2 separate regions of the Homo sapiens genome follow, and region 2 is linked to region 1. The links come from fine-mapping of genetic effects on plasma protein levels. A gene starts in region 1. The other region holds a variant in brackets. All regions are shown on one strand. Distances are between the middles of the regions.

Region 1 (2,912 bases):
AGATTCTGCATGATGCCAGTGTCCTTGGACCCTCTCTGAAGAGGACTTTTTGAGAGGAGAGTGTTTGTGGAGCCGAGGTTTGTGCCTGTACCCTGGAGGTAAGCAGGTGAGGGCAGCAAATCCTAGTTCCTCTCAATGTAAGGCAGAACTTCCCACTTCACACTGTGGGAAGTTCTTCAAACTTGGAGTTTTAAAAGAATCCAAGGGGCTACAGTGCATGATGAATGTGCCCCGATTTCCTGGAACTTAGAGTCGATGAACACTTAACTTATGCAGGTAAAGGCAGAAGTGTGTGGCACCGTTGGTGAGTGAGGAGGCAGCCAGACAGCACTACAGCTCTTCTAAGGAGCAGGAGAGTGACCTCAAGCTGTGTTAGGGGTGGTGAGGCTGATTTTAGGGAGGGTAGAGGATGGTGCTGGAAAGGGCCACTGTGGCCAGCTCAGATGAGCTTCAAGGATCCCCTGGTTAGGAGCATGAACTCTCATCTGTGGGCAGAGGGATCTCAGGTTAAATTTTAGGAACTGTAGCAAGCTGTGGCGAGGAGTGAGGGGACTTTTTGGGATAAAATTGTCTTATGAGCTCAATTGCATCCCCTAAAAATTCATTGGTTTAAGCCCTAACCCCCAATATCCCAGAATGTGACTGTAATGGAGACACGGCCTTTAAAGAGGTGGCTTAGGTAAAATGAGATAGTTAGAGTGGACCCTAATCCAATACAGCTAGTGTCCTTATCAGAAGAGGAAATTTGGACACAGAGAGAGATGCCAGGGATGCATGCCATGTAAGAGGCAGCAAGAGCATGGCCATCTGCAAACCAAAGAGAGAGGGCTCAGAGGAAAACAAGCCTTCCCCAATGGCTTGACCTCACATTTCTAGTCTCCAGAACTGTGAGCAAATAAATTTCTTTAGTCAAAGCCACCCAGTTGCAGTGTTTTGTTGTGGTGGCAGAGCAAACAGATAAAGTAGTAAGTCCCTCCAGCACCCTAGGAGGTTCTGCTTGTTGCCATTCCCCAAAGGCCATCCTAGCCATGATGAGGGCAGGTGCGGTTGTTTGGGAGGAGACCACTGTGGAACAAAGAGAAACAAGGCTTGCTTGATGCAGCAGGGAGTAGACTACAGATTCAAGAAGGGCTCTAGAAAGGTCCAGCAATTCAGCTTGTCAGGGAACCCCGAGCTGTATGTAGTTCTTGCTCTCCTGTGCCCTGCAGGATGGCTTGACCCATTTCTGTTCTCATGTCAGACCCTAAGGGCAGGGTCATCTGGGCCACAGACCCAGGCCCGGTGGGCCTGGTGGGCTGACCTGTGGGCTATTCTTATGCCTTCAGGAAACCCACCTTTACCACCTGGCTGTTGTGACTGGCATCGCTGAGGCTGTTTCTTTGTGTATAAAATCGAATAAGGACACATCACGTGCTAGCAATCCACCAGCATAGGGCGAAGGCTCAGCAAAGAGAAGTTCTCTCCTCCTCTGCTCTTTTAGGTCAGCAGCAAATGCAGATCGGGGTGGGGACAAGGTAAACACATAACTTGGGTGGAGATGTGATTGATTAATAACTCATAAATCATCTGAAACCATACTTTCCTTTTGATAGTCAACCCTCTGTAAACACTCAATGTGTTCTCACCTTGTTATCATTCCCAATGATGTCGAATGCGTGGTTGCCCTCTCCAGTATAAAAGTTTGATGCAGCTTTGCCTGGATGTACCTGTCTATAAGGAGTCCTGCTTATCACAATGGTAGGTAACTGGTTTTATATATAAAGGCTAGAAAAGCAAAAGAGAATATGTATTCCTATTTTAATATGCGTGTGCTTCTACCACATAGCATTGAATGGTAAATGTGACCTAGTTAGGAACCTTATGTTATTACCTGCAATTCAATGTGCAGAGTATGAGAGTCTGAGAGCTTGCGAAAATTGTAATGAGTTTAGCACTAGTTCTGTTCTCTAAGATCTAAGTTGTTTTTCCTTCCAGTAATTCTGGGGTTCAATTAGATTTCATAAGTGTCTCTAATTCTTGGGTCCTATGTGAGTAATTTGAAATTAAAAATAATTTCAGAGCTACATGACTGCATCGTTTTTGAGATGAGGGAACTGAGCCTGGGGAGGGGAAGAAGCTGCCACTGGGGTCTCACCGCAAGCCTGTGAATGAGCTGAGATAGGAACCCAGGCATTCCTCTCTCCCTGCCAGGGGCTCCCAAACTTGGCTGTGCAGTGGAAACTCCGGGGGAATTTTGAAGAACACTGACACCCATCTTCCACCCCGACACTCTGATTTAATTGGGCTGCAGTGAGAACAGAGCATCAATTTAAAAAGCTGCCCAGGTCATTTTAATACTCAAGTTTGGGAACCATTTCCCTAGGCCCTTTTCACTGTATCATGTGTTAAGGAAAAATCTTGGGTTTGGGGCTGTGTTTGTTGGTTTATTTGTTTGTTTTTGAGACAGGATCTCACTCTGTTGCCCAGGCTGGAGTGCAGTGGTGCAGTCATGATTCACTGCAGCCTGGACCTTCCTGGGCTCAGGTGATCCTCCCATCTCAGCTTCCCAAGTAGCTGGGACCACAGGCGAGTGCCACCATGCCCGACTAATTTTTGTATTTGTTTTAGAGATAGGATTTTGCTATGCTGCCCAGGCTGGTCTTGAACTCCTGGGCTCATGCAATCTGCCCACCTCAGCCTCCCAAAGTGGTGGGATTACTGGTGTGAACCACTGTGCCTGGCCAAGAAAGAATTTTGCTTCAAAATTTATAAAAACCCATGCAGGCTTTTCTTGTGTCTTAAACTTGATCTTTCTTAAAACATTCTTTACTAACGCTGGGGACTGAACTGGGCTGCTCTGGGGGCTGCAAGGGAGATGAGGCAAGAAACAGCCAGCCAAGTGGGAGGAGCCAAGGGAGGTGGGAGAGGGTCCT
Region 2 (2,912 bases), 450 kb after region 1:
GGTCTCGATCTCCTGACCTTGTGTTCTGCCCACCTCGGCCTCCCAAAGTGCTGGGATTACAGGCGTGAGCAACTGCGCCTGGCCAACACATTTTATTTTTTGCAATGAAACTCTTTAAAGAACTAGAACATGGTTGGGCGTCGTGGCTCACACCTGTAATCCCAGTGAGAGGTGAAGCCAGCTGGACTTCCTGGGTCAAGTGGAGACTTGGAGAACTTTTCTGTGTCTAGCTAAAGGATTGTAAATGCACCAATAAGCACTCTGTAAAATGGACCAATCAGTGCTCTGTAAGATGGACCAATCATCAGGATGTGGGCAGGGACAAATAAGGGAATAAAAGTTGGCCACCCCAGCCAGCAGAAGCAACCTGCTCGACTCCCTTTCCACACTGTGGAAGCTTTGTTCTTTTGCTCTTTACAATAAATTTTGCTGCTGCTCGCTCTTTGGGTCCGTGCCACCTTTAAGAGCTGTAACACTCACTGCAGAGGTCCGTGGCTTCATTCTTGAAGTCAGTGAGACCAAGAACCCACCAGAAGGAACCAACCCCGGGCACACCAGCACTTTGAGAGGCCGAGGCGGGCGGGTCACCTGAGGTCAGGAGTTCGAGACCAGCCTGGCCAACATGGTGAAACCCTGTCTCTACTAAACATACCAAAAATTAGCTGGGTGTGGTGGCAGGCGCCTGTAATCCCAGCTACTCAGGAGGCTGAGATGGGAGAATTGCTTGAACCAGATAGGTGGAGGTTGCAGTGAGCTGAGATCGCATCATTGCTCTCCAGCCTTGGCAACACAAGCAAAACTCGTCTCAAACAACAACAACAACAACAACAACAAAACTAGAACATGGTTGATGGGTTGATGTATTTAACCATTTGGTAGGGAGTCAGTGTGACTGGTTCTGGAGATAACACTGATCACTTGGCTCAAGCCTGAATTCTTTCTTATGTCTTCATGTCCCACAAACTGTAGGAGAGGGTAGGTAATTTCCCTATGTGGGCTAAGGCAAAGGAAAGGCAGTGTATTAGGAGTCCCCATTAACACAAGCAGGGAGGATTTGGAATTAAGCTGTTGCCACAAGGCCAGTATGCCTCTTGGAGTGAGCACCTGGTGCCCTATGAGCAATTCCCTTACTGGCTGCCTTACATTCTGAGTGCAACAGTTTCTTCCCAATTGTGCTTTGTTTCCTTGCTGGCAATCCGCCCCCCCCTTTTTTTTTTTTGGAGATGGAGTCTCACTCTGTCACCTAGGCTGGAGTGCAGTGGCATGATCTTGGCTCACTGCAGCATCTGCCTCCTAGGTTCAAGTGATTATCCTGTCTCAGCCTCCCGAGTAGCTGGGATTACAGATACCCGCCACCATGCCTGGCTAATTTTTGTATTTTTAGTAGAGAGGAGGTTTCATGTTGGCTAGGCCACGTTGGCCAGGCC[G/A]GTCTTGAACTCCTGAGCTCAGGTGATCTGCCTGCCTCGGCCTCCCAAAGTGCTAGTATTACAGACGTGAGCCACCACGCCTGGCTGGCAATCCCTTCTTGAACTACACTCCAGGTGGCAAGAATCTGGACCCAGGACCTGGACACGTTCAAGTTGTCAGCTCCCTTTCCCTCAGGACTCTGACCTCCTATACTAATACCCCGTCGCCAAAGACCATATTGGTTAACATTTACCCAACACTGTATGTATTGGGCACTTAAAAGTGTTATACAGGCATTACCTCATTTTGTCTCATAACCACTCTATTCAGTAGATATCTTTCAGAAAGCTGAAGAGAGGCTCGGAAAGGTTAAGGAAATTGCCTAGACAGTAATGGTTGCGCCAGGACTCACCCTAGCTTTGTCTCCATGAGTGCTGCTTATCAGCCCTGCATAGCTCACAGATCCCTGTTGAACTACGAAGGTTCTGCCGCTTCCTGTAGAAGGATGACAGGATTCCATATCCATTCATCAGTCAGCCAACCCTTTGGCTCAACAAGCCTGGTCTAGGCATAAGCTATACCAATGGAAGATATTGGTACTACCTTCATGGAACACCTGCTGCCAGAAGCAGTAGAGCCAACCAGGTTGTGGCAACTGGCCTTGATAACCTATTTTCCACAGTAAAAGACAAATGGAGAAAATTCATCATTTTTCTGCTCTTTGTAATACTGTATTGTAAGTGTGTTATAGAAATGGAGATGTTTTGACCTTGCTGATCCAGAGGATATCTTGAGCACACTGTTTTGAACCTGACAATCTGCTTTTTACTTAGCCAAAAATTCAAAGTGGTCAGAATTGTAGGGAGGAATTGATTAGCTATATGATAGATCACTCCGGGACAACAGAACAACTATGGAATATTTGAGAGGATTTGCTTATAATTCACTCATGAATTTACTAAGAAATACAAATTATTCATCTTTTATGCATGATTATGGGAGAAATAAAACTGGCAGTGGTTGAAACTATTTCTGGGAAGTTTGATGTAGGAAAATTGGATTTGGTAGACAGTGATGAAAGTGACAGAGGAATAATGAGAGTTTTATGTGGACAAAAGATGAATGCAGAGTCTGGCCCGGTGCAGTGGCTCATGCCTGTATTCCCAGCACTTTGGCAGGCAGAGGCAGGCGGATCACGAGGTCAGGAGATTGAGACCATCCTGGCTAACACGGTGAAACCTCGTCTCTACTAAAAACACAAAAAAATAGCCGGGCGTGGTGGCGGGCGCCTGTAGTCCCAGCTACTGGGGAGGCTGAGGCAGGAGAATGGCGTGAACCCAGGAGGTGGAGCTTGCAGTGAGCCGAGATCGTACCACTGCACTCCAGCCTGGGCTACAGAGTGAGACTCCGTCTCAAAAAAAAAAAAAAGAGATGAATGCAGAATCAAATATTTAGACGTCTGTATGTACACAGAGATGATTCCCCCATAAAAATTAAAATACAAC

What was found. A credible set is the group of variants that fine-mapping cannot tell apart. PIP is the chance, under the fine-mapping model, that this variant and not a neighbour inherited with it causes the effect. Protein levels are from the aptamer-based SomaScan assay of Sun 2018.
Region 2: its variant is the best candidate, but not a certain one, in a credible set for the plasma level of the MSMB protein (Sun 2018, PIP 0.60).

Annotation. Positions count from the first base shown.
Region 1 is chr10:46,045,060-46,047,971 of GRCh38, reverse strand. It overlaps MSMB (microseminoprotein beta), which reads left to right and starts at 1,703. Exons shown (of 4, transcript NM_002443.4): 1 at 1,703-1,737. The coding sequence starts at 1,735.
Region 2 is chr10:45,595,393-45,598,304 of GRCh38, reverse strand. No RefSeq gene overlaps it. Among named protein-coding and RNA genes, the nearest start is that of MARCHF8, 61 kb to the right of the region's middle. The variant G/A (reference allele first, on the strand shown) is at 1,428.